Regions from separate parts of the Homo sapiens genome. Here regions 1 and 3 are each linked to region 2. Evidence: fine-mapped expression QTL. A gene starts in region 2. Each other region holds a variant in brackets. All regions are shown on one strand. Distances are from middle to middle.

Region 1 (10,384 bases), 25 kb before region 2:
GAAGACCCCACTAGTGGGGCGATGGTCTCATGCTCAGGGCCTCCCCAGCCAGCTAAATCCTGCTTTGGGGAGGGAAAACGTGGGGGAAGATCTACAGCAGCAGAGGGATGGACTAGCATAAGGGGACGGGATGGCAGGGGGAGGAAGACCCACTCTGACCACTGCGCGGCCCTGCGCTGATGCGGCCCAAGGGCAGGCGATGGCCTGGACCCTACCCCCGGCCCTGATCCTGACCTTCAGGATGTCGAGGCTCCGCTCCTTCTGCACCATCATACGCAGTGTGTGTGCCACATTGAACAGGTGAGACATCTAAGAAAGAGCCCAAGTTAGCTAGAAAGGTCCTAGCCCCAGCTTTCCAAATCCTCAAAGCTCTGGGTGGTCCCATCCTCCCTGCCCCAGGCACCTGATCCTTGGTGAACTGCTGGACGGACAGGATATGTTGGCCCACTAATGAGTGCAGCAGGGGTGAGGTCTGGGGGTGCAGCAAGCCAGGGGTCCCCAGGTTCTGGGGAGATGCCTGTCTCGGTACTGGTGGTGGAGGGTAGCAGGTGCCATCAGGGGTTCCCATCAGCTCTGCAGTGAGGGATGGGGCAGAAAAGGCTGGTCAGAGGGTTCCTCCTACCAAGGCCAGATCAGAGGTCCCCGAGGTGAGTGTGTGTCAGGGTGGAGTCTCACCTGGCTCGGCTACCTTCCGAGAGGACTTCTCCTTTGGCTCCTCAGCTGCAAACAGGACAAGAGGACAGATATACATTTATGGCTGAGGTTTGGAAAGAAACCCCATATTCCCAGGAACTCTGAATCACAGTGTATATGTTAAACCAATTCACAACACAGTAATATAGCAGGTTAGGGGAGGGCAGGGGACTGCAGCAGCTCTGGGGACAGACAGGTGGCTTCCCATGGGGCTGTGTTGTATGGGAGCAGTGGTGCCCTCCCGGGGCTCTCCCAGTTGGCAAAGGCATCCTAGGCAAGAGGAACGGCCAGACTCACACCAACCAACAACCTGGATTTACCCCACGCTCTGCTGCCCCGTGGGATCCCAGCTCCTGGGCGGAGGAACACAGCTGCCCACAACAAAAAAGGGCATGTGAGAAGCTGTGAGATGTCTACTCACACCGGGGAGACTTGTTTAGGCAAAGGATGGCACGGCAGATCAGACGAGGATAAAGGGATGGAGAGGAGGACATGTAAGTAGAGAAAGGCGAGGCACTGGGAAGAAGTGGATCCTGTCCCTACACAGTCTCTGAGTCACAGGAACCCCACTCTTACCTGGCAAACCTGGGTCGGAGGCTCGATGGATTCGGGGCGGCAGATGGAAGCGGCCATCAGGAAGCCCTGGGATGCCACGGCGGGGTCTTTCAGGTGTCTGGAGGGATAACGTTGGCCCAGAGTTGTTTTTTTTTTTTTCTTTTGAGACGGAGTCTCGTTCTGTCGCTCAGGCTGGAGTGCAGTGGCGTGACCTTCTGGGTTCAAGCAATTCTCCTGCCTCAGCCTCCCAAGTAGCTGGGATTACAGATGTGCACCACCACGCCTGGCTAATTTTTTTATTTTTAGTAGAGATGGGGTTTCACCATGTTGGCTAGGCTGGTCTTAAACTCCTGACCTCAGATGATCCGCCTGCCTTGGCCTCCCAAAGTGCTGGGATTACAAGTGTGAGCCACCACATCTGGCCTGGCCCAGCATTTTAAAAAAATAATTGACCCAACCCCACTTCAAATTCAGTCCCTCAAGAAAACCCCAATTGTTCCTGAACCACCAATGAAAATGTTCAAGCTGTTCATCCTGCCCTGAGACTAACACCTCCCAGCCCCCTAGCCCAGTAGTGTGGATACCGTGGTCATCTCACTAGTGGCAGGGGCTGAGGGTGGGAGCTGAGGAACAGCCCCCTGTGGCCACTTCCGTACATCCTGTCCATAGCCCGGGGGTACCAGAACCTGCAGGCAGAAGGCAGGGCACTCAGGAGGGAGCAGAGAGAACTCAGGTCCTAAAGGGGTAGATGTCAGCAAGGACAAAAAGCACCTTGGGGGAGCTGTGCCCCCAACCCCTGGTCCAGGGCAGTGGTGCACATAGTGGGACAGTGTAGATGTGCTGGGAAGGGAAGAAATGAACGTGGTGCAGAAGAGGGCACTACTGAGATCAGGCAGGGGCTACTTGCGTACCTGCCCATCGATATAGGCAACCTCCCCTCGCAGGACCACACGGCGGACGGTGCCCTTCACTTTCTGCCCTTCAAAAGGTGTCCAGTGGGCCTTGGAGAAGGGCATGTGGCTGGGAATTGTCCACTCATGCTCCAGATCCACCTGCCCAGAGGACATGGGTTATGCTAGGGAAAGGATCCCCAGAGAACATATCCTAGGGCTGGAGAGCCCCCCTCCTGCTCTGGGCCTCATCCCCACACCTCCACATAGGTGTCCTCCTGCGGGGGCAGGTGAAAGATGCGCCGAGGATTGTGGTGCAATCGCTGCAGCAGGTCGTCCAGGCTGAGCCGGCCCTCGCTTACAGCCGTCAGGAGTAGTGGCAGCATGGTCTCTAACCCTGGGAACCCAGGTGGGGGCCTGGACCCACACTTCTCCTCCAAGGTATGGGGAGCTGGGAGAAAGAAAGCCATTACCCTCAGGACCAATCACCTCCATGTCTAGGAAGTCACTCACACCCCAGGACTGCACTTCCAACAACCTCCTTATGCTCACTACCACTCCCAATGCTCATTTTTTCTGGGAACTAGAAACAAGGGCAACAGGACTGCTGCCATCTTCTGGAGCCCACACTTTTACCCATGTATTCTTTCACTTGCAGTTCTACTCACTGGCTCATTCATTCTTTCAACAAGTATTTATCAGGCACCTATCACAGACCAGGTACCCTAGAGGCTAGGGTCCCATACGGATCAAGACCCTGTCCTAGTAGAGTCCTGAGGCCTGGCCTGCTTCCCATTTTCTTGCTAGGGCTGTCCCACAAGCCCCACTGGGCAGAGGAGGTACATGCTGGATTCTCTCACCATGGTCTGAGGCAAAGCAGTCGATGACAGCCATGTTCTCCCACAGGGCTTCCACATCCTGGCGGGAGCCAAGCTCAGGCCGGACCTCCCCCTTCCCAGGCCCCAGGCGCTCCAGGTCATCATGGCTTAGGAACAGGTGGTGGGGAGCCACCTCGCAGGTCACTGGCAAGCCCCGTGCCTTTGCAGCTTTAATTAGCAGGATCTGGGGAACAATGGGAAGATCCAGAAGAGGCACCACCCATATGCCTTGCCCTACACAAAGTCCCAATGGCCAACATCCCTGCTCAAAAAATGATGATGTAGACCTGCAAGGGTGCTGGCTCGAGACCCTCCTCCTGCTGTCTCCAGACTCTCCTCCTGCTGTCTCCTGCCCCTAAGGACTACCCTGACCTTTGGTGTTACTGGGAAAGCAACAGGGACAGCAGGATCTCAGGTGTACTCTTACCTCCTCCTTCCGTGCCACGTGACATATGTGCACTGAGCGCTGAGTGAGCTGAGCCACCATGAGGACAGCAGCCACGGTTTGCTGCTCTGCGTGAGCCACAATGGGGAGGTGGGAGGGCCATGTCTCGAAATGCTGGGAGCAGAAAGAACTGATGAAGGAGTGTGCAGAATCTCTGACTGTGCTCATCAGAGCCCAGAGTCCCCAGGAGCTCCCCTGAATCCTCACTGCTACCAGCCCACTTAGGCAGGGGCCCACAAGCCAGGAGACACTGGGTGGTGGCCTCCTGCCACATGCACACTCCCTACCTCCATCCACTGGACCACGCTGTCCAGCCGCAGCTCAGAGAAGGTCTCATTGAGGTAAAGCTTCAGCCCGGCTGCAGACCCGGCCACGGTGCCCAAGGTTCCTGCATTTTCAGACGAGGCCCCAAGGAATAGCGCAAAGTCGCACCGGGCGCCAGCCTCTGCCAGCTGGAGAGGATACACAGAGGTAAGGCTCACTGGCACCCATGCCCACACAGGCTAGCCTGGCACCAGTGGCCTGGGCCCATAGGGCGGGGCAGAAGGAAAAGGGCTCAGGGAAGCAAGGGTGGCTGGTAGGGGCATATGGGTCTCCAATACCAGGAAGAGTGCAGTGGCTCACCTTCTGGGCCAGGGCCAGAGCAGGGGCGTCAATGATGGGGGGCCGGGTATTAGGCATGGCACACACCATGGTGATACCCCCAGCCAGGGCAGCGGCTGTGCCTGAAGCAAAGTCCTCCTTATGTGTCCCACCTGGTTCCCGCAGGTGCACATGGACATCAATCAATCCTGGGAGAAAATGGAAGCAGCAAGATTACAGGAAGATTCAGAAATAGGAAGGGTGAGCTGGACATGGTGGCTCACGCCTGTAATCCTAGCACTTTGGGAGGCCGAGGTGGGCAGATCACCTGAGATCAGGAGTTCGAGACCAACCTGACCAACATGGTGAAACCCCGTCTCTACTAAAAACACAAAAATTAGCCTGGTGTGGTAGCACACACCTGTAATCCCAGCTACTTGGGAGGCTGAGGCAGGAAAATCGCTTGAACCTGGGAGGCGGAGGTTGCAGTGAGCCGATATCACACACCACTGCACTCCAACCTGGGCGATGGAGTAAGACTCTGTCTCAAAAAAAAAAAAAAAAAAAAAATTCCTCAGACAAGGCCACTGTGGACACTGTGGATTAAGGAATGAAAGAGTGAGAAACATTCTGGGGTCTTCACAGTCTGTGCAGTCCAGGACAAAGAGTGGGCCCCCCAGCCATCCTTCACCACACTGCAGGTCTCTATGCCAGGGGCTGCCAGTGTTCAGAAGCCAAGTTCTCCCCAAAGACTTACCCGGCAGTCGCACAAGCTTTTGGGAGGTCATACAGTCAACATGCACCTTCAAAGGAGGGGCTGGCCCGATCTGGCCTAGGGCCTGCAAGTGGAAAGCAGTCAGCTTTAAGGGAAGGGTGATCCTGGGAGTTGTAGGGAGAGATGTGGTTTTCCCATAAACCAGGCTCTGCACACTCTATACCCACCATCTCTCCCTCTGTAGCCACAAAGCTTTATTACTAGCATGGCTGTTCCATACTCACTCCTCCCTCTTTCTTCTTCCCATCAACACTGGCAGTCTCCCTCCCAGCACATGGGTCTCAGTTACCTCCACAAAGAGTTTGGTGCACTTGATATCGATGATTAGGGGCACGGAGAAGTCAGCGGCCAAGCGTCGGGTGCGGTAGCCCTTGGTGACAAAGGAAGAGAGACGCCGGCCCCCAGCTCCACGCATTGACAGGTTAATCACCAGCTCAAAGTTTTTCTCAGCTAGCTGCTCCAGGATGCTCCGCTGTGGTGGGCACTCACCATCCACAGCCTCCTCAAAGTGCCAGTCCACAGCTGTTACCTGCCAACCCGGAGTCAAGGTCAGGGCCAAGCTGTCTGGCAGCGGTCAGGAAGGCTAGCCTTAAGGGAGAGGAGCTGGCCCAGGAGCCCATGATGAGGAGACTGAGGACCCATAGGGTGGGCACTGAGGGCTGCCTCTATTTGATACTGGCAAAGTGTATTTCTTGGCAGGAAAGATATCTACACTAAGTAAGATGGGTTACCAAGGACTAGGTGCAGTATGAGCTCACACACATGTACACAGAGAAAATCCTGGAAGGAAAAATATCAGAACAGTGGTACAGAGATTTTAAGAGACTTTTCTCTTTGCTTCCTGTGTATTCTGCTTTCTGCATGGAATATAGCTTACTAGTATAATGGTA[A/G]TAATAAAAGCAGGGGAATAGGAGATAATTCTTTGTTTTTTTTTTTTTTGAGACAGCATCTCACTGTTTCCCAAGCTGGAGTGCAGTGGTGCACTCACTGCACACTCGCAGCTCACTGCAGCCTCTACCTCCTGGGCTCAAGAGATTCTCCTGCCTTAGCCTCCTGAGTATCTGGGACTACAGGTATATGCCACCGTGCCCAGCCCAGATAATTCTTTGGTGCAGTATTTTCACCCCCTTGGGGAAGGGCAGCAGTGGGGTAGGTTGCCAGAGTTCCTGCACCTTGACGCCATGCTCAGTGTAGAAGTCAGCTGTGCCGAGACTGGCATAGAGGCTGTAGCCCAGGCTCTCCAGTAGCCGCACAGTTGGGAGCAGCTCGCTTTTGTTCTGAAACCAAACAGAAGGATGAAATTGTTTTCTTCCTGTCTTCCATTTCAAGGTCAGCCCTGGCCCAGGGAGCCACGGCCCTCGGGAAGCCCTCCTGGATTCTGATACCTTATAGCTGCCAATGGTCAGCAGGATATTCTTCTTGGGGATCTTAAAGCCAGTGCTTAGCATGGCCTTGAGGTATGCCTCACAGCGGCTCTCCCCAAAGCCGGCCACCTCCCCAGTACTGGTCATTTCCACACCCAACACCACGTCAGCACCCGCCAAGCGGGAGAAGGAGAACTGAGGCACCTAAAGGGGCGGGAGGGAAGAGAGAGGGCCAAGGTGTGAGAGGACCTCCTCCCTCACCAGCAGAGACGGACACAGTACCCTGTGCTTGATCCCATCTGAATGGCAGGGTCAGCCTGCCCTCTCTGTGTGCCCTCCTGCTTTCCAAACGTACTTGGGGTCATCCCTCAGCTTCTGCTTAGGATGTGCCCTTGCAAATAAAAAACCTTAACCATCCTTCAAAACTCAATTCAAATAGCACCCCTTCGCTCAAGCCTTCCCAGATCACCCCTTTTGGAAGCAGCACCTCCTGTCTCTTGAACTCCTGCAGCATTCTGTTTACAGGTCGAATATGTAGTTTTACCACGGACTGTTCTATACCAAAGCTTTTTTGGGGATCCAACTTCTCTTCCCTCCCATTACCATAAAGTAAGCTCTTAAGGGACAATGACCACCTCATTACCCCCACGATCCGGCAATGCCTTGCAGTCAGTGCCTGGTTTACATACTGACAACTCTGTGTGGTGAGTGAACTCTCTCCCGCTATTTTTCTGCTAACCCCAAGGGTTTCGATATTCCTTACCTTTACTCCCACGACTCCAGAACCAGTCATTAGCCCCACAGGTTCCACTTCTTCCCCCATGATGACCCGCGTGGCCAAGGCTACTAGGTCCACACCCAGTGTCTTGGAAACGAAGGGGAAGGAGCGAGAGACACGTACGTTGCATTCAATAACTTTCAGCTGGTCATCCTGGGGCAGAGAAGACTGGTCAGGCCTTCTGCAGGTTGGCCTTGCTGACACTATCTATAGGCCTAGACTCTTCCTCTCCGTCCTCAGCTCTGGGGGATCAGACTGAGCAGGGTTCAGGGTCACTGACTGTCATAAGCCCCAACACCATGAGCTCTAGCTACAGCCCTTTCCCTCCAGCTTCCCTGCCTACTTGGATGAAGGCAGGAGACAGTGCAGGGCTTCATGGCACTGTGGCCAGCACAGAACATGCAAGAGCTGTGGCCCTTTAGTTCTTTCCTTTAGCCTTATTACCTTGGCAATGAGCTGCAGATTGAAGGGTCCTGTGACCTGTAGCTCCTGGCCCACAGCATGCACAATGGCTTTGATCCGCTCCAGGGTTTTGGCAGTGATATCTTGTGGGGGGGTCACCAGCGTCGCATCACCTGAATGCACACCTGCATTCTCCACATGCTCAGAGATGGCGATGGCTGCCACCACACCATCAGAGGCCACGGCATCCACGTCAATCTCCTAGCGGGGGGACACAGACAGTGGGACATAGGGCCACTTTCTTCTCTCACTTACTCTAGGATTGTCTCTTCCTTTAACGAGCCCCACATAGCCCACTGTTCCCAGCCCTGGTGCCTATGATTCTGCTGGACCAGAGAAGGAAGTCTCCTCCAGGGCTGGCAGCATGCCCTCAGAGACTTCACTGTCTGCAGCCTCCCACCTTAGCCTCCTGGATGAACTTGGAGATGACCACGGGATGCTCTTTGGAGACGGCTGCTGCGCTGCTCAGGAAGCGCTCCAGGTCTCCATCCGTGTAGGCCACATTCATAGCAGCACCGCTCAGCACATAGGAGGGGCGCACCACACAGGGGTACCCCACGGTCTGGCAGAATTGGCGAGCAGACTACAGGAGGCAGGGAGCTTAGCTGAGTTGTTCACACTTTCCCCCAAGCATCATCCAGCCTCCGGGTAACCCACCAGGTCCCAGCCCACCTCGAGGTCACTGAGCTCCCTCCACTGAGGCTGGCTGATACCAATGGTGTCAAGGAGCCGGGAAAACTTGAAACGGTTCTCAGCCGAGTCAATGGCTTCAGGGGAGGTGCCCAGCACCCGGCACTGCTGCCGATGCAACGCCATGGCCATGTTGTTGGGCAGCTGTCCACCCATGGATAGGATCACACCTTCAGGGTTCTCGAGCTCATAGATGTCCATCACCACCTACGTTGCAGGGGGAGAAACAAGTGGTGGCAGCAAAAGAGGGCAGGAATCTGAGCCTTCCTGCTCACTGCTTCCCTCAGCCGCCACCAAGTTTCAAAGAATCTTAGGTCAGCCAGCTGTTCTACTCGACCCTGGCCACTCAAGCTACCAGGAAGCCTCCATCTCCCTCACCTCAAAAGAGATCTCATCAAAGTAGAGTCGATCACACATGTCATAGTCGGTGCTGACTGTCTCTGGGTTATAGTTCACCATGATGGTCTTATATCCCATCTGCAAGAGGGAGGGGAAGGGTACTTAGCAGTCAGGTGGGAGGAAAATCGTGGAGAAAATCGTGGAGAAACTAAGCCAAAGCCCCTACTTCAGAGACTGCCAGCACAGCTTCCTCTGAAAGAGCTGTACAGGACCCCTGCCTTGGGAGGGAAGGAGGTACAAAGTGTTGGGGAAGAGATTCATATACCGTGTGGGGCATGAGAGATGGCCTAAAAGGACCCCCACCCCAAAGCTCTATGACCAAAGTAAGGGACGGCAATTAATAGGAAATGCCAGGATTAGTGCCAAGCAATTGCTAGAGATGAACAGAATAGCAAGGAAAGTGGAAAGAAAATGAACTCTCTGACCTTTCGGAGCTGCTGGATGCAGCCTACAGCACACCAGTCAAATTCAACGCTAGAGCCAATACGGTAGACGCCAGAGCCAAGGACTAGGACATGAGGTGTTCGAAAGGTGAGGTCATGGGTGGTGCCCCAATACGTTAGGTATAGGTAATTTGTCTGGGCTGGCCACTCAGCTGCAACTGTGTCAATCTGTTTCACTGCTGGACAGATCCCCAGTTCCTGACGCAGCTTGCGAACAGCCAGCTCTGTGCTAAAATAGAAAAAGGGTCTGAAACACAGGCCCAGAGAGTAGGGTACAGACTGATAGAGGGTTGAGACCCCAGGGCACAGATGAGAGGAAATATCCTTGGAACCAAGGTCAGAAGCCTCTAAAGCTCTCCCACACTCTCCTTCCTCCCTCCCAAGGGTCCCTCACTGATACAAAGGTTCTGCCCCACATTTCCCAGCCGGAAGCTCTCATTGCCACCTCTGACCTCAGAACTGCAAGGGCAATCTGTTTGTCTGAGAAGCCAAGACACTTGGCCTGTTGCAGCAGGTCTGGCGGCAAAGGCTGTCCACGGTGTTGTTCTAGCAGCTGGGCATGTGCGATGATACGCTTCATTCGGTGCAGGAACCAGCGGTCGATGCGTGTGAGCTCATACAGGCGGTCCACTGAATAACCAGCCCACAAAGCAGCTGCCACCACAAAAATCCGCTTATCTGTTGGAGTCTCCAACTCCTGATAGAAAGGGGGTAGACAGACGGAAGCTACTGCCAGCCCATCTAAAAGCCTGAGCGTAAGTAGCTGCTCTTGTCTCAGGAAGGGGAAACTGTACACCAGAGCACAGGCTGTGTAACTGCAAAAACCTGGATACCAATCCTGGGTCTACCTCTCATTGGCTATGTGGCTTTGAGTAATTTCTATAACCTATGTCTCAGTTTCCTCATCTGTAAAAACAAGTCTAGTAATACACCCTTGCGTGCTAATGAGACATCTCAAAATTCTCAGCAAAGTGGAAACAAAGCAAATGTCCAATGATGACTGCTGCTAGTGTTACTGGTAACAAGCTCATGGTCTGGGGGCGATGAGAAGCAGGGTCTATTTTAGGGGTATTGCCAGGGGAGGGGAGCTACTTACCATATCGCTGACTGGTTTCACTGTGTGATCAAAGCCCACACAGTTCTCATCCACCATGCGCAGGGCCTTCTGGAAGGCCTCCTCAAATGAACGCCCAATGCCCATGACTTCACCTGGAAGAACAGAATGGAAGGAATGAAGGTGTGGAGGTGGAAGGGGTGGGAAGAAGGCACTGCCCATAATGCTTATGGTTTATAGTCAAGACTCTGGGAGATTCTCAAGGCAAGTCACATGATGGTGGGATTCATGGTGTTTCACAACTAAGAAATCTTAATGGCCGGGCGCAGTGGCTCACGCCTGTAATCCCAGCACTTTGGGAGGCTGAGGCGGAAGG
Region 2 (8,416 bases):
ACCAGGGTCCTCCAGAGAACAGTTCTGGAGATCCAGCCTGAGGAAATAAAGTAATCAATATAACTGTGTGTTCCTCTTTTTCTTCAGCCACGGCACAGTTTGTATTTGACTACACAACCCCCTTTTCAGCTAATAATTGAACACAGCTGTGTTCAGAGTCACACACTAGGAGCTGTGGTAGACATTTTAATTCTGCATTATCCAATAGAATCGCCACTTGCCACATGTAACTACTTAAATTTAAATTAATGTACCTTAGGCTGGGTGTAGTGACTCACTCCTGTAATCCCAGCACTTTAGGAGGCCAAGCGGGGGAGGATCACTTGAACCTAGGAATTCAAGACCAGCCTGGGCAATATGAATGAGACCCTGACTCTATAGAAGAAAATTAATTTAACCTAAAAATTCAGTGTCTCATTTGCACTAGCCGTATTTCAAGTGCAAATGGAATAACCACGTTAGTAGCTACTGTACTGGTTAGTACAGATACGGAACATTTTCCTTTTTTGAGACAGTCTTACTCTGTTGCCCAAGCTGGAGTGCAGTGGCACGATCTCGGCTCACTGCAACCTCCATCTCCCGGGTTCAAGCAATTCTCCTGCCTCAGCCTCCTGAGTAGCTGAGATTATAGGCACATGCCACCACGCCTGGCTAATTTTTGTATTTTTAGTAGAGACGGGGTTTCACCATGTTGGTCAGGCTGGTCTTGAACTCCTGACCTCGTGATCCGCCCATCTGGGCCTCCCAAAGTGCTGGGATTACAGGCATGAGCCACCGCGCCTGGCTCGGAACATTTTCATAATCACAGAAAGTTCTATCCGCCAGCACTGTTCTAATCGGTTATGCATCTATTGGGAGAAATCTGTGTTTCTTGTCTACATTAGTGAATCTCATATTATGATTTTCAGATCCACAGAGGGCCTTTAAATTAAAAAAAAAAAGTCACATAAATCAAAGTTTTTTTCCACATGTATTTTCTACCACAGATTGGTTGTAAACTGCTGGACATTAAGGATCATGCCACGTTATTTTTTTCTTCAATATCTACTGCTATCCATTCCTTTATTCTACAAATATTTACTGAGTCCCTACAAACTGCAAACACTGGGAGAATGTTAAAAATATGTAACACAGTATTTTGGCCTTTGAGTGGCTTACAATGTAGTTAGAGGAACAAGAGCACTGCCCAAAAATAAAAGCACTGTAAACATTAAATTACAATATAAAAGAAACCACAGGACAGTGTATAAATATATTTGAGTGGACACTAAAGATTACAGGAAGTTTTTAAAAAAGGTATTACTGAATCGCTTGAACCCAGGAGGTGGAGGGCGCGGTGAGCCGAGATCATGCCATTGCATTCCAGCCTGGGCAACAAGAGTGAAACTCCGTCTCAAAAAAATAAATAAATAATAATTTAAAAAAGGTATTACTCTGGAACTTAGTAGTAGTAAATATTCACAAAAGATGTTGGAATTGAAGGATGGATATTTCCTAATTTGGTAGAGGAAGGCAATTTCAGGTATGGAGAGAGGCCTGAACAAAGGTGGAATGCCTTTGAGGGCAGGCAAATCTGGCTGGTGCAGACCATTATGGAGGTTTGAGCGGACAAGTAATTGGAAATAATGTTGGAAAAGTGGGTTGGGACTAGTATGGTACTTAATGGTTTGAATTTTGTCCTGAGACAAAATTTAATACTAAATATAGTATTAAAGCAAGAGAGTGATAATGGAAAATGTTGGTTTTCTAAAAGCTTAATACAGAGAAGTATTTAGGTAGATGAAGGAAAGAAGAGAATGGAAGCAAAACATAACATTTTGAGTTTGAAGTTAGGGTGCACTCAGTAGGAAATGCTTAATAGGAAGCTAGAGGTACCCGTATGTACCTGGAGTGTGGAAAGGTTAAAAAAGACACTAAAGAGATCTAGTTTTGGTAGACATCTGCGTGATGATTACAGCTGAAACCATAATAGGTGGATTCTTTAAATAATATAAGGGTATAAAAGCAGCCAGGCTAAGGAATGGCCTGTATCCAGCATCTAGGGATGTCTTCCCCTCACCCCAAGATGGTGCCCTTCTGATTCAGGCAGCAACGGGCATGCAGCATTAGCTCTCGTGTCGTTTTACAATAAAAGGCCACTTTTGACAAATTTTGCACGCTCCCTGGACATTGGGTGCATATCTGCAGAAGAGAAAGAAACATTAGAACTCCAGAAAGAAAAGCCAAGAAAAGAACAAACGGCGATCAAGAATTAACTGCCAGTACACGTTTCCAGAATTCCTCTAACACGGGGCCGATAAATGGATAAACGGCTCGTGTCCCACCCTTGTAACAGGCTAGGCTAGGAGATGCCATCTCTTCCTCCAGAGTCCTGCGCCGAATCAGCTCCCGACACTTTCAGTACCAGATATCGCACAGGGAAGGTCCTCATCTCTGAAGATCACTATTCGAACTTATTTATTATGCTTTCTGCAGAGACTTCTCAATCTGACAGCCCTAGTTTGGCGCGGTGTAAAACGACCGCAGGTACGTAAAGAACTCATCAAGCATTACAAAAGTACAGCCCTACCACCGCACGATATATGGCGTTCGTGCGTAGAGAGATTACACAAGAGGCAGAGGACCCGTCTGTAGAAAGAACTTAAAGTTATTCTAAAATTAAGGGGCGAAATCAAGTTTCACAGGTCTTTGAAAGTCGGCAGGACTGGGGCGCCGAAGGCCTGCACGACGTGAGTACTTGGGAACAGGACCTGGCTGGGCAGGGTCGGGAAGCGTCAGGGACGAAATCAGAACCGCAGGCCCGCCGAGGAGAAGGGGGAGCCGCTGGCGAGCGCGACGCACGGCTGGCCAGCGACCCTGCTTCAGCCCGACCTCAAACTTGCTTCTGTACCTCGGGTAGCGCCAGAGCCCTTTCCACGCCCAGAGCGAGGAGCAGGGCGGCAGCCCAGGGCACCAGGGTCGTAAGACTACCCGGGTCGTGAGGCGCCATTTTCCGTTCCCTTGGTGCTCCGCTGCTCGCGCGACCCGGCCCCGCGGCCCCGCCCCGCAGCGCGTCAGGCCCTCTTCCCCGGGCGTGGCCTAAGCGGCCCGGTCCAGTCGCCCTGGGGCTGCTTGGGGGCTTTTCCTGCTCGTGGAGCTCTGCGCTGGTCTTCATGCGCCCTAGCCCTCTTTCGGGGATACTGGCCGACCCCCTCTTCCTTTTCCCCTTTAGTGAAGGCCTCCCCCGTCGCCGCGCGGCTTCCCGGAGCCGACTGCAGACTCCCTCAGCCCGGTGTTCCCCGCGTCCGGACGCCGAGGTCGCGGCTTCGCAGAAACTCGGGCCCCTCCATCCGCCCTCAGTAAACATGGCGGCACGGCGAGCGGGGCGGGCAGGGGGCGGGCAGGGGGCGGGGCCCCCGCGGGCTCCCGGCCAGGGCTCTCGGCCGGGCTCTGGCTACCCACGTGTGGAGACCGGGCAGGTGGGCCTGGAGAGCGTGAGCCGGTGCCGAGAGGCACCGGGGAGCGGCGTCTGAGCCGGGGCGGGGACAAGGGGGCGGGGAGGGGCGGAGCGAGCCGGCCTCCGGCGTGGGTCTGAGATCTTAAGTGCGAGCGGTAAGGTGGTGGTCTCCGCCGCGTAGAGGGAAGCGGGAAACCGAGAAAGAACGAGGGTGAGGGTGATGAGGGAAGGGCAAACCTCAAACTCCAGCGGGAGGACACGAGCCTGGATCGCCCCGGGCACCTAGTCCTCTTCACCTCAATGCTGATAGCGCATAGCGTCCCGGAGCCTGGCGAGGAGGTAGGAGCGGGATAGACGCTTCCCTAACTCATTTTCTTTGCCTTCCCAGGAAAAGGGAGCGATGTTGATCTCAGGAAGCACAAAGGGACCTTCCTAGCTCTGACTGAACCACGGAGGTAAGGGAGTGCGTTGCTGCCCCAGGGTGGGCCAGCGCCCTGACTGAAGGGCGCCAGGGGATCCCTGCTCCCGGCGCGACAGTGTTGGTTAGGGCCAGCCAGAAAGCTCCTTAAAGCCGACCCAAGTGATCATCTCGAGTAGCCGAGCCAGGCTTCCCTTCCACATTACCCCCATGGTGTCTGCCTGGAAGTTCCTGAAAGGTTTACGTTTAGCTGGCTGGCAAATTTTCTAAGGTGTTAGTAGCTATTAGCATTTTAAGGAGGGCCCCCAAAGCCTTTCACACCTTGAGGAATTATAGGCCCCAGGACAGATTTTGAGGGAATCTTTTTGGAACAGTTAGTCCTGCAGTGGTCTCATTGCCTTTTGTAGGAGTCAATGCGATCCACTGCAGTGTGTGACCAAAGTGAGTTCAGGTTTTTATTTTTATTTTTATTTTTATTTTGAGACGGAGTCTCGCTCTGTCGCCCAGGCTGGAGTGCAGTGGCGCGATCTCGGCTCACTGCAAGCTCCGCCTCGCGGGTTCACGCCATTCTCCTGCCTCAACCTCCCGAGTAGCTGGGACTACAGGCGCCTGCCACCACGCCTGGCTAATTTTTTGTATTTTTTAGTAGAGACGGGGTTTCACCGTGTTAGCCAGGATGGTCTCGATCTCCTGACCTCGTGATCTGCCCGCCTCGGCCTCCCAAAGTGCTGGGATTACAGGCAGTGATGTGGGACCCCTTTTAAAAACCTGAACTTGGCCTGGCGCGGTGGCCAGGCCACCGATCCGCCAAGGCAGGTGGATCGTCATGTCAGGAGTTTTGAGACCAGCCTGGCCAATATGGTGAAATCTCGTCTCTACTAAAAATACAAAAAAAAAAAAAAAAAATTAGCTGGGCGCGGTAGCACATGCCTGTAGTCCCAGCTACTCAGGAGGCTGAGGCAGAAGAATCACTTGAACCCAGGAGGTGGAGGTTGCAGTGAGCCGAGATCGTGTCACTGCACTCCAGCCTGGGCGACAGAGCGAGACTCCGTCTCCAAAAAAAAAGGGGGGGGGGTCCCACAATCTGCTGTTTGTGCCTTGGCATGTTATAGTTGTAGTGAAACAACAGCTAGCTCTTGCTTTTGGCCGCCCTCTTTCTGGAGAGATGCGAGACCATAGCGTTTGGATCAATGTAGGGTGTTTAGAAAACTACAGATCTGTTCTCAGAATCTGGTCTGTTGCTAGGTCAGGTTTTTCCTGTCTTCCCTGGGGCTCTCTCAGGCCATCCAGGGGAATTCTCCATACATCATGCAAATAGAATTTTATCAGGAAGTCCCATCAGCAGAGTGTCTTTATTTCTGTACCTCCGTGTCCCATACTGGGACTTTCCTTCCTGTCTCTGGCCACCTACCTCTCTAAACCACTAACCCTATAGTTAGTTCTTTGTTCTGTGTTCTTTGCACACAGGAGACCTCTTCTTTCCTCTTACTCCCCAGTAGTTCCCATCATCTCTATCATAGCAGTAAAAACTTGCCAAAGACGAATGAGAAAACTCAGGGTGTTGCAATGTGCAAAGGCCCAGGGCATGTTTAGGTTAAACCAGAGTTTAAGCCTGTTGGGAATCTTGTAGAACATGTGATCCAAGAGTTGCCAGGTCTGATTTTCCCTCTTTATTGGCCCCAAGAGGTTCAGAGTTCAGGTTTAGTCTGCATGAGGCCATATCTTGCCAGCCAGCCAGTGTCTGCCCAAGAACACACTGTGGGAGAGCGGAAAGGCAGCCTAATCTTTCTCCTAGTGGGCAAAAGCAGAAGACATAGTTTATGTTAGTCTGTCTCTTGATTAGTTGAAATCTAAACTATGTCCTGTGAATGACTGACTGCAACACTCTGCTCCTGTCCTGGTTCTGGGAATAGTGAGGACAGGGCCCTTGCTGAACACCTGTCATAGCTGCAGACAGCACTGTTTCTCTCTCTCTTGTTTTGTATCATGCTGCATAACCTTGAGCAAGTTATTTAATCTCTCAGTTTTCTTGTGTTAACTGGAGAGTATTCGTGTCTTAATCTGAGACATGCTGTTTTGAAAATGTTAGCTTCATTATGTATTATTACTAATGTTTATAAAGCACCTCACACACTGCTGGGTTACATAGCAGGTGTTCAGCAAATGTTAACTGTCGTCATGTTAGGCTGTGTAACTACATGGCATTCTCTGGTGTTTTTTCCTCATACCAATAAGTACCCCAGAGGATTGCCTTTGAAGACAATATGATACGCTTGGAGAACAGACAGGGTGGATGGTGAATCCCTAGACCTGGGTTCTAATTTATGCTCTGACAATAGTCGGCTCTGTGCTTTTGGAAAGGTCACTTGAACCATCTGAGCCTTAGCGTGTTTATCTGTGAAATCGTCAGTGGTGGGGGGTTGGTTGTAATAGTGGTGTCCAAAGATTTAAGATTTTAAATATTATGATCCCTTCCCTCTTTCTCTGAGGATTGTGGTGTATTCTTGGGGGATTAACATTTCTTGTGCAGGAGTTAGAAAATCAACTTTCAACTTTCCCATGTTTTCAGTTCCTTCTTTCCAACTCCCTCCCGCACAGAGTGCCAAGAGTACTTTAGGCTGAAAGGCTAATCCATCTAGGAATGCTGTTGAATATGAGCTCCCTCTTCCCTGTTCTGGAGCCTCTAGGGCTGAGTTGGAGTTTGGGGGCCATAGGGTGATAGGGCCATTTGGAACACAGCCATTGGTTCCCTGAAGGGGCCAGAACAAATGACTGCTGAGCTTCACCCCACCCCCAATTCCTGATCTCTCACCTCAGCTACTCATAGAGCCAGATCCTCAGCTCTGCAGCTCCAGGCAACTCTGCCTCAGAACAGGGATTGCTTCTCCAGGTAGGTGTCTGTCCCCAGCAGGATACGACCACTCTCTTTGGCTGGTCCCTTTGCCTCTCAGCTCCGTGACTGGGTTGCTTCTCTCCAGAATGGAGAATCGTCATTCTGAAACCCTGACTCCAGCATGGTGCCCTCTCACCTTTCCCCTCTCACTTTTGAATCCAGCCGCTCTTCCTGCGTCTGCTGTTGACTGTGATGTTGCAGGTAGAGGGGCTGAGAGGTGGGTGGCAGCACTTATCTAGTGGTGTTGGGGAGAACCTTAAGAAAGGGGTTGGCCTGGGGACGCCTGAAATGGAGTCTGTGGCTGCCACAGAGGCAGTCTCACTGATGATCAGTTAGAAGGGTGACACTGGGGATCACAGGAGGCGAGGGCCGAGGCCAGGGGCAGTAGGGGAAGCCCTGCTGCCATTAGTCTCCATGCTGTGTTTCCTGCTGGGCTGTGGCGCCAGGCTGGGCTCTGCTGGCTTAGTGTATTGTAGTGACTGGGTCTGTGCCTTCAAGTGGGGCTGGGAAATTCTGCTAAGAAACTTAGGCTAGAGTTTATTTTTCTTTTGGTACTCGGGTGGAGACCTAAGAAGGTTGTTGAATTTCACAGCTGTGCATACTCAAAGGTCCTGGCCAAGTTATATTGTCTCCTGGCTGTCGCACTCTGATGCTTCTCCCTCACTTATGTCCCCTACCAAACCCATACCAGGGCCTCTAGACCTTGAAGGGCTACCACTATGCTGGCTGGTCCACTTCTGATGGCATGCGATGTACAAGGCCCAAGGGTGAATGGCTACCAAGGCCAGATAGGCCTCACTAAGAGCTAATTCCTTTGCAGCTCACCCTGGACAGTATCACTCCGTGGAGGAAGACTGTGAGACTGTGGCTGGAAGCCAGATTGTAGCCACACATCCGCCCCTGCCCTACCCCAGAGCCCTGGAGCAGCAACTGGCTGCAGATCACAGACACAGTGAGGATATGAGTGTAGGGGTGAGCACCTCAGCCCCTCTTTCCCCAACCTCGGGCACAAGCGTGGGCATGTCTACCTTCTCCATCATGGACTATGTGGTGTTCGTCCTGCTGCTGGTTCTCTCTCTTGCCATTGGGCTCTACCATGCTTGTCGTGGCTGGGGCCGGCATACTGTTGGTGAGCTGCTGATGGCGGACCGCAAAATGGGCTGCCTTCCGGTGGCACTGTCCCTGCTGGCCACCTTCCAGTCAGCCGTGGCCATCCTGGGTGTGCCGTCAGAGATCTACCGATTTGGGACCCAATATTGGTTCCTGGGCTGCTGCTACTTTCTGGGGCTGCTGATACCTGCACACATCTTCATCCCCGTTTTCTACCGCCTGCATCTCACCAGTGCCTATGAGGTGAGCAGGGACAGAAGGGAGAAGTGCGTGGGACACGGGTTGGGGTGGAGAGGAGGGACAGGCACATAGGAAGGACCTGGGACCCTAGACCTCCTCCACCTAATGAGAGGGACAGAAAACTCATTGTGTGTTTATAATTCTTTCTCAGTGATGTTAGGTATAGGGGCAGGATTGGAGAGGAGGGTGCTATGCCGAGTAGGACTCAGAGTGGGTATGGGTTGGATATTCCCTCATGTTCCTGAGCATCTTGAGGGAATTTGTCTGTGAGTTGTCGGGGTGAAGTCAGGAGAAAAATCTTTTTTTCTGTATACCCAGT
Region 3 (9,937 bases), 310 kb before region 2:
ACTCACTATCATGAAAACAGAATGGGGGAACTCCACCCCCATGATCCAGTCACCTCCCACCCGGCCCCTCCCACAACATTGGGAATTATAATTCAACATGAGATTTGGGTGGCGACACAGAACCAAACCATATCAGAGATCCAATTTTCCCAGCATCATTTATTATAGAAACTGTCTTTTCCCCAATGTATGTTCTTGGTACCTTTGTCAAAAACGAGTTCACTGCAGGTGTGTGAATTTGTTTTTGAGTTCTCTATTCGGTTACATTGGTCTATGTATCTGTTTTTATGCCAGTACCATGCTGTTTTCGTTACTATAACTCTGTAATGTAATTTGAAGTTAGGTAATGGATTCCTCTAGTTTTGTTCTTTTTGCTCAGGATAGCTTTGGTTATTCTAGGTCTTTTGTGGTTCCATATAAATTTTAGGATGTTTTTGCTATCTCTGTGAAGAATGTCATTGATATTTTGATAGAGATTGCATTGAAGCTGTAGATTGCTTTGGGTACTACGGACATTTTAACATTGATTCTTCCAATCCATGATTATAGAATATCTTTCCATTTTTCTGTGCCATCTTCAATTTCTCTCATCAGTGTTTTATAGCTTTCATTGTAGAGATCTTGACAGGTGCAGTGGCTCAAGCCTGTAATCCCAACACTTTGGGAGGCTGAGGCAGGTGGATCACAAGGTCAGGAGTTCAAGACCAGCCTGACCAACATGGTGAAACCCCGTCTCTACTAAAAAAAAAAACAAAAAAACAAAAAAACAAAAAATTAGCCAGGCATGGTGGTGTGCACCTATAATCCCAGCTACTCAGGAGGCTGAGGCAGAAGAAACGACTGGACCCGGGAGGCGGAGGTTACAGTGAGCCGAGATCACACCACTGCACTCCAGCCTGGGCAACAGAGCAAGACTCTGTCTCAAAAAAAAAAAAAAATCACATCTCCTTCAAATAAGGATAATTTGACTTCTTCCTTTCCAGTTTGGATGCCCTTTATTTCTTTGTCTTGTCCGATTGCTCTAGCTAGGACTTCCAGTACTGTGTTGAATATCAGTGGTGAAAGTGGGGATCTTTGTCACGTTCCAGATCTAAGAGGAAAGGCTTTCAGTTTAAATTTATTTTTTGAATAAACTTTTTATTTTTGAAAAATTTCAGGTTTACAGAAAAGTTACAAAGATAGTACAGCAAATTCCCATATATATTTCACCTAGTTTCACCTAACATTAACATCTTACATAAGTTTGGTACGTTTGTCAAAACTATGAGATTAACATTGGTATATTTACTATTAACTAAACTCCAGATTTCATGCAGTTTCACCAGTTTTGCCACTAAAGTCCTTTATCTTTCCAGGATCCAACCGAGGGTAGCACCCTGTAGGTGAGTCATGCTTCCTGAGTCTCTTCTGGTCTATGACAGTTTCTCAGTCTTTTCTTGTTTTCCATGACTGAAAATTTTCAGGTATTTTGTAATATGAGCAGGTATTTTATAATATGTCCCTAAAGCTGGGTTACTGTGATGTTTTCTTTATGCTTAGACTGAGGTTATGTGTTTGGGGGAAGAATACCACAGAGGTGACATGCCTTTCTCATGATATCATATCAGGAGGTGCGTGATACCTGCTGGTGATGCCCATCTTGATTACTTGATTAGGGTAGTGCTTGCCTGGTTTCTCCACCGTAAAACCCATTCCCTTTCCCATACTCTGTTTTTTTGTAAGTGAGCCCCTAAATCTAACCCACATTGGAGGAGAGGTGGTGTGGGATGATTAAGCTCCATTTCCTAAAGGAGTGTGTGTGTGTGTGTGTGTGTGTGTGTGCGCGCGCGTGTGTGTTTATTTAGAATTCTTCTTTAGGAAAAATTGGTACTTTCCCCCACTTTATTTATTCAATCATTTGCTTATAACGGTACGAATTCACGCGTACTCATGTATTTTTTTAAACCAAGTGTTTTTTTTAATTTTATTTATTTATTTGAGACAGGGTCTCATTCTGTCACCCAGGCTGGAGTGCAGTGGCATGATGACAGCTCACTGCAGCCTCAACCTCCTGGGCTTAAGAAATCGATCCTCCCACCTCGCTTCCCAAGTAGCTGGGACTGCTGTCGCCTACCACCATGACCAGCTTGTTACTTATTTTGTTGCTCAAATTGTTCCCACTTTAGGCACTAGGAGCTCTTTCACATTGGCTCTTGTATCCCTTTGACATATTGTCATCCTTGTGGAGGTTTTGAGCAATTCTTTACTTTCTGTGACTACAAGATGCTCCAGGGATCCTCTTCCTGTCTTTTTCCTTGTCTTTTCCACAGCACCCCAGTTACTAGCTTAAAAATGACCCACTTCTCTCTCCCAGGATGGGAGCATTTTGCATCACCTAGATATAGTACCTGTCCTCTCAACCCTAGGATTTGACTCACCTGTCCAATTGGGTCCAACCCTAAGTTTCCATTGGATCTTAGGCATTTTGCTGTATTTGTAGAGCCCATCCCTGGAACCAGATGGAGACCCCTCTGTCTCCTACCTGGTCCCAACATCCTCTTTCAACGTTATAGCTTATCTAATATTCAAGAGCTGGCTCCAGGCTGTGTAACATTCAAAACAATCTGAATGTTAGACCGGACGAATGTTGGCCAGGTGTGGTGGTTCACACACACGATCCCAGCACTTTGGGTGGCTAAAGCAGTAAGATCACTGGAGGCCAGGAATCAAGACCAGCCTGAGCAACATAGCAGGGCCCCATCTCTACAAAAAAAAAATTAAAAATGAGCCAGGTGTGGTGGTGCACATTTGTAGTCCTAGCTACTCGGGAGGCTGAGGCAGGAAGATTGCTTGAGCCAAGGAGTTCGAGGCTGCAGTGAGCTATGACCGCACCACTGCACTGCAGCCTGGACAACATAGTGAGACACTTTCCTTAAAAAAAAAAAAAAAGAGAGAGAGACCATCTAAATTATGAAAAGAATAGCTAGCTAGATTTTGGAGACGAGTTCATGAGTTCCATATATATATATGGATATATATTATATATTCCATATATATGTGTGTGTGTGTGTGTGTGTGTGTGTGTGTGTGTGTGTGTGTGTATAACGTCAGGCTTAGAGTATGTGCGATATCCAAATATATTTTGTCCCACCCCCTCTTGTTTTTTTTTTCTGTTTTAGAGCCAGGGTCTTGTAATGTGGCCCAGCCTGGCCTTGAACTCCTGGACTCAAGTGATCCTCCCATCTCAGCCTCTCAAGTAGCTAGGATGGCACACCTAGCCCCCTTTTGCTTTTGATCCAGCAAATATATGTGCTGGGAAATTGTTTTCTTCATCTTCCACAATCTAATCCAGTCTTCAGGCCCAGGCCCTTTAGTCCTTTCTACATAATTACTGCCTTGTATTAATAATGGATTATTCTCTTGCTGTTTTTGCCCTCAGATGTTTACTTTCTCCAAATAACTGCAAAAGTTGTCACCCTATCATTTGTGTCTGGATAGTTCTAAAAAAATCTTTGAACTTCTTTAGCTCTGCCTGGAGCACAAATCCCATTGACAATGACCAGATTCTCTGCTATCAGATCCATATCCCAGTGTGAATCTTCAAACCTTCTTGCGTTTTCTTTGGCTGTTCCTTTACCCCACCCCAGCCTCCTTTCTTCCAAAACTTTCCTTGACTCTTGGCCTACCCTGTAATTTCAGCAGCTCTCTGTACTTATCCCGCTGTTTAATCCACTTCAACTCTGTCTTGTATTCTAATTGCTATGTGCTTGTGAGTTTCTAGGGGGTAGGCATCAGATCTTAGTCATCTTCATCTCTGCCACAATGCCAGAGTGTGTCTAGCTTCTAATGTCCCCCAAGGCTATCCCACAATATTCATAATGTCCCACAATAATGTCCCACAATATTCATAATACCTGAATATTGTGTCCAACTACATAAGAATTGAATTCACTTGATGTCTTCATGCCATCCACGTACTTGGCAACTAAAAGAACTCAGGGCTTCTAGAGTTCTTCTGCATCCAGCCCTGGAGAAATCTAACCCTGTGCCCTATCCCCTCCAAATGTGGGAGGGGAGCTACTGTACAGTTGGCATCATCAACAGGATCAAGGGGTGCTCTGCCCTTTGGGGTCCCAGAATGCTAGGTATCTTCTCAGACTTGACACTGTTCATGACACCATGCTGAGAGATGAACTGACCCGATGAAAGAACGTGGTAGAGAGTTGTGGGTGAAGAGAAGCAGAGGGACTTTGCAGGAGCCTTTCCTAACTTTAGCCATCTTGAATTTGGGAGAGGTGTTTGTGGAAGATGAAAGGGGTGGTACTCAGGAAGCATCGTGAGAGTAGTGGCTGGGGAAAGGGGGATTACTGATCATCCAAGGCATCAGTGTGAAGATGTGGAACAGGAAAACAGAGCTCACATAGAGGCTGCAGGCCCTCAGATGCACAGAGGGGCCTATGGCCACCTTAAAAAGGTTGATTACTCTATCCTCATAAAACCAAAATCTGGCTCCTTTGCAGTCACCCTCCTGCCTAAAAGTTCCAGGGACCTTTCCAGAGAGTTTCATCCCCAGAGGAATGTTCCTGAGTATCTATTACCTGGATATTTCTCAGGCACAAGGAGGAACCAGCTCTCTACTGTCAGGGCCATATATCACAGGCCCTAAAGAGCTGGCATGAATCTAGGATGAACAAGGGTGTCTTTGATTTGTCAAAACATGGGGTAGCTGATGTCTAAAATGTACAGCCCGGGGTTTCTAGTGTTTGTTGGGTCCCACCACCAAGGGCTTTCAGCACCTCCAGAGTTCCTTATGTTCCTCTTACAAACACGGGGCAGGGGATGTGACCCTCATTTCATGGTCTAATGCGTGGATGTAGCAGTCATTCTAGATCTTGTCATGTCTGATTAAGACTGCCCTTTTTCTGGGTTTCCTATGTTAGGTACACAACTTCTTCCCTCTTCCCCTGGAATTATCTAAAAGTTCCCACCTCTCATTGTGTGTCTGTGTGGGATTGGAGTGTGTGTGCACGCATGCACACGTGGCTGCATGTTGGTAATGAAAATATAGGGATGCCAGTATAAGGCTTGTGTTAGGGACCAATGAAATGGAGTTGGGGACAGAATTAAAGAAACAAATCTGCTGTTAAGACCAACCCATGCCACCCATCCTATCCCACCTCTGATCTACTGTTTGATTTACTGACTTTGAAAGGTTAACTTTCCAAAATAAGACATTTCATTTTATTTCTGAAATCAGAATAAGTCGGTGAGAGTAGAAACCACTAGGTCGAGAGCAAGAACTCTCCCCCAAAGTGGAGAGAATATTTCTCCCTACCCTGGGCTGCGGATGCCCTGGAAACGGGGCTTCTTCCTCCCACATGTTCTGCTGGCACAAGTCCCCTTGGGCGGGCTGGGCTGAAGTGGGCAGGGTTGGGCCCCTTTCACCCACCCAGAAACATGGGTTCACTGAACGTCAGGCTCTAGGATCTCGAGGGGGTCCGCAGTGCGCTTCTGACCTGGCCCAGCAAGAGCACTCCTGACAGCCTCACAGACAGAAGGAGCTGCAGCCAGGTGTGCCTGAGCCTCAGTGATCGAGCACCGGAATAGGAGGCTCAGCAAGGCGATGGGTATCACCTGTGGGGAAGAGGCAGTGGGCACTGAAGCCTGAGGGAATGAGGTCATCAGAGAAAGAACCCCGGAGGAAGGTCGGGCGCAGTGGCTCACGCCTGTAATCCCAGCACTTTGGGAGGCCGAGGTGGGCAGATCACTTAAGTTCAGGAGTTTGAGACAAGCCTGGCCAATATGGCGAAACCCCATCTCTACTAAAAATACAAAAATTAGCCAGGCATTGGTGGCTGGCACCTGTAATCCCAGCTATTTGGGAGGCTGAAGCAAGAGAATCTCTTGAACCCGGGGGCAGAGGTTGCAGTGAGCCGAGATCGCGCCACTGCACTCCAGCAGCCTGGGTGACAGAGCAAGACTCTCTCTCAAAAAAAAAAAAAAAACAGAACCCTGGAGGAGTTAAAGCATTTGATACAGGAATCAGGAGCCACTAGGTTAGATGCAAATAGGATGTTATTAAGATTAGAAGGTGGTAACAAGGTGGATTAAGAGCAGAAAGAAACCTTCACTTTGACCAGGAAAACTCCTATTCATCCTTCAAAACCCAGTCCAAAGACCCCATGAATGTGGAGGTCCTTGTGAGCAGAGTGCCACTGAGCTTTGTAAACCCAGTGCCGAACAAACTTCCTGACACACTGAAAGTACTCAAAAAGTATTTGTTGAATGACCAGCAGTGGGCAGGATACCTGTTCCTTCTCATGTGCAACCTGGACATGGCAGGAGATGGGAGCAGCCCGAATATCATCTGACAGTGGCTGGGGAAAGTGGATCGCTCGGAGGAGGCTCTCGATGCATCGAGCCTTGGACTGTCCAGAGAACCGCTAAGGAAGAAGTGGTAAGATCAGTGTCAGGCTAAAGGCCAGAGGAACTAAGAATGGAGTCAAGGGAGAAGAATAAACTATGAGAGTGAGAGGCTGGGATCCCGAGGCCTGGCTATAGAGGCTGTAGATGATTTGTCCATGTTGGCAATCCTAAATTGTAATTCCCAGGTGTAAAGAAAAACTAGGTTAAAGGGGTTGGTGGTGGGCTTGACTGGCTGGGTTAAACTGGAGGATTAATGGCAAATTGCTCAAATTTGCATGTGTGTCCCACCAATCCTGTAGGTTGGTAATCTGGACTCCCTCTCTCTAGTTTCCTCTGTAACCAAATCCATCTTGCACACTAATGTAAGACTGTTCATCTGCAAACACTGCTTCCATTTTGTCACTAC[C/T]CTCCTCTCTGTCTAGCTCAGCATTGTCCAGTAGAAATATAATGCAAGGCTGGGCACAGTGGGTCACACCTGTAATCCCAGCACTTTGGGAGGTCAAAACAGGAGGATTACTTGAGCCCAGGAGTTCGAGACCAGCCTAGGCAACACAGCAAGACCCCATCTCTACAAAAAATAAAACAAATTAGCTGGGCATGGTGGCACCTGCCTATCGTCCCAGCTACTCAGGAGGCTGAGGTGGGAGGATTGCCTGAGCTCAGGAGTTTGAGGCTGTAGTGAGCCGGATGGTGCCAATGCACTGCCCTCCAGCCTGGGTAACAGCGTGAGACCCTGTCTCTAAAAAAAATAAAAATAAAGAAAAAAATATAATGCAAACCACATATGTAAGTTTAAGTTTTCAGTAGCTGCATTAAAAAAAGAAATAGGTGAAATTGGCCAGGCACAGCAGCTCACACCTGTAATCCCAGCACTTTGAGAGGCTGAGGCAGGTGGATCACAAGGTCAGGAGTTGGAGACCAGCCTGGCCAATATGGTGAAATCCCGTCTCTACTAAAAATACAAAAAAAAAAAAAAAAATTAGCTGGGTGTGGTGGCGCATGCCTGTAATCCCAGCTACTCAGGAGGCTGAGGCAGGAGGATCACTTGAACCCAGGAGGTGGAGGTTGCAGTGAGCCGAGATCATGCCACTGCACTCCAGCCTGGGTGACAGAGTGAGACTCCATCTCAAAAAAAAAAAAAATGTGATTTCACCTATTTCTCCTGACCTTGTGATCTGCCCGCTTTGGCCTCCCAAAGTGCTGGGATTACAGGTGTAAGCCACCACACCTGGCCTGAAATCAATTTTAATAATATATTTTATTTAACCCAATATATAACCCAATGTAAACAATATTAAACATTATTAGTCAGATATTTTGCAATATTTTTCTATATTCGGATTTTGTATTTTGAAATCCAGTGTGTATTTTGCAACTAGAGCACACCTCAATTTGTTTTTTTGTGGCTTTTTTTAATTTTAATTTTATTTTTTGAGAGATAGTCTCACTCTGTCACCTAGGCTGGAGTGCAGTGGCACTATCTTGGCTCACTGAAACCTCCACCTCCCAGATTCAAGCTATTCTCCTGCCTCAGCCTCCCTAGTAGACAGGACTATAGGCCTGTGCCAACATGCCCGGCTATTTTTTTATTTTTTTTATTTTTAGTAGAGACGGGGTTTCACCATGTTGGCCAGGCTGGTCTCGAACTCCTGACCTCAAGTGATCTGCCTGCTTCGGCCTCCCAGAATGCTGGGATTACAGGCGTGAGCCACCGTGCCCAGCCAGCCCACCTCAATTTGGGTGCTAGATTTGCAATGCTAAAAAGAGAAATGTAGTCCTACCAAAATATTAAAGTTACATTTAATTTAAAAAGTATACAGCTTTGGTTTTTACATAAAATTAAAAATTCAGTTCCTCAGTCACATTAGCCACATTTCAAGTGCTCAATAGCCACATGTGGCTGGTGGCCAATGTTTTGGACAGCGCAGGTCTAGCTGCATTTGGCAAAGTCCAAATTCCTGCCTGGCTTTAACCTCCCACATCCCTCCCCTTCCTACTTCTTCACAATCCCTCACTGCGCTCTAAAGTGACTTGCCACTCTGGTTAGACCTGTGTCCCTCACATATCATGCCCAGTCCCCCTTCTGGGACTTGGTGAATGACCTAACAGGAATGCTCTTCTGTCCACCTATCCAAGCCATAACCACCAGGCCTAGCTCAAAATACCACCCCTTCCATGAGGCCTTCTTTTTGCTATAATGCATTCTGACCCCCACCTTCTTTATACCTCCACTGGACTTCAGTAAGGACCATAGTTTATTTTGGGGACCTGGTGGGTGCTCACTAAATGTTCATTGATTGATTCCTTTCACATAGGGTTGCCAGATTTTGTGAATAAAAATACAGGACATCCAAATATATAATGAAAAAAATCAAAAATATCTCAAATATTGCATAGGGCATACTTGATGGAAAAATTATTCCATATTTATCTGAAATTCAAATTTAACTGGGCGTCCTGTATTTTTATTTGCCGAATCTGGCGACCCCATTTTCATGACCATCTGTTGTGCCGTCTGCTCAACATCCACTCCTTCTGGTATCAGCACCTTGGTTTTCCTCTGAGGATCTATCGCTTCCCCATGCTCAGGTAATGAGGTTGGATTGAGGCTCACCTCCCAGCCCTTCTTCCACCACCATCCTGAAGGGAAAGCACATGATCCAGACTGGGCAGAGCATCCCTTGCTCTGGAGAACAGTGATTGCTTCAGGGACATGCATGTGTCCCAAGCAAGAGCCCCCAACCAGGCATTTGCAAGAACCACAGGACAGGCAAGCTCTTTGCCCACTAGTGTTGCTACGTAAATTGTCAGGCTGGCACTACTGGTGGCCAGTTTGCCACCTAATGGAAAAAACTTGCCTAAGAATGAGAGCAACGGCCGGGTGCAGTGACTCACGCCTGTAATCCCAGCACTTTAGGAGGCTGAGGCAGGTGGATCACCTGAGGTCAGGAGTTCGAGACCAGCCTGGCCAACATGGCAAAACCCTGTCTCTGCTAAAAAATATAAAATTAGCTGGGCATGGTGGGGGGTGCCTGTAATCCCAGCTACTCGGGAGGCTGAGGCAGGAGAATCAATGGAACCTCAGAGGCGGAGGTTGCACTGAGCTGAAATAGCACCGCTATACTCCAGCCTGGGCGATAGAGCAAGACCCCATCTCAAAAAAAAAAAAAGAATGAGAGCAACACAGGGGAAAACAGAGTTAAGGGTGGAAAGTTCTGGAACACATTAGATTCAGCTGCCCTAAGATTGTTCAGTTATATCAGCCACCATTTTCTTTGTTTAGCTTAAACCAGTATAAACTCGTTTTCCATCACGTTTGTAACTGAAAGAGTCTTGCCTAATAATTACAATTTCACAAACACACCCATGTGTGCACACACACTCCTTAAGGGGAAGATGCACCTAATAGGAGGAGCAGAAGCACACAGAAAAGGCAGCCTGTACCCTTGCACATTTCCATATCTCTACAAAATGCCCTCCTCTGGCAGCCTAAGCATTGAGGCCAGGTCCCACCCAACCCTGCCCCATCATA

The links.
Region 1: its variant is fine-mapped to the expression of SLC5A6 in aorta (GTEx, PIP above 0.99). The same link has a PIP of 0.9 or more in fibroblasts, lung, pancreas, sigmoid colon, spleen and sun-exposed skin.
Region 3: its variant is fine-mapped to the expression of SLC5A6 in whole blood (TOPMed, PIP above 0.99).

The regions. Positions count from the first base shown.
Region 1 is chr2:27,231,247-27,241,630 of GRCh38, reverse strand. CAD (carbamoyl-phosphate synthetase 2, aspartate transcarbamylase, and dihydroorotase) reads right to left here. Exons shown (of 44, transcript NM_004341.5): 16 at 10,051-10,163; 17 at 9,407-9,651; 18 at 8,937-9,183; 19 at 8,491-8,589; 20 at 8,095-8,319; 21 at 7,823-8,005; 22 at 7,405-7,623; 23 at 6,946-7,113; 24 at 6,204-6,386; 25 at 5,991-6,095; 26 at 5,108-5,347; 27 at 4,801-4,882; 28 at 4,086-4,252; 29 at 3,749-3,913; 9 more. Among named protein-coding and RNA genes, the nearest start is that of CAD, 19 kb to the right of the region's middle. RefSeq lists an enhancer at 8,950-10,149. The variant A/G (reference allele first, on the strand shown) is at 5,709.
Region 2 is chr2:27,206,942-27,215,357 of GRCh38, reverse strand. SLC5A6 (solute carrier family 5 member 6) reads left to right here and starts at 3,090. Exons shown (of 17, transcript NM_021095.4): 1 at 3,090-3,338; 2 at 3,825-3,891; 3 at 7,568-8,100; 4 at 8,416. The coding sequence starts at 7,708. It overlaps ATRAID (all-trans retinoic acid induced differentiation factor), which reads right to left and starts at 3,317. Exons shown (of 7, transcript NM_001170795.4): 1 at 2,891-3,317; 2 at 2,060-2,181; 3 at 1-37. The coding sequence starts at 2,989. RefSeq lists silencers at 2,894-3,143, 3,334-3,653 and enhancers at 4,436-5,233, 5,188-5,247.
Region 3 is chr2:27,518,945-27,528,881 of GRCh38, reverse strand. GCKR (glucokinase regulator) reads right to left here. Exons shown (of 19, transcript NM_001486.4): 18 at 6,288-6,422; 19 at 5,198-5,613. The coding sequence ends at 5,443. Among named protein-coding and RNA genes, the nearest start is that of SPATA31H1, 13 kb to the left of the region's middle. The variant C/T (reference allele first, on the strand shown) is at 6,812.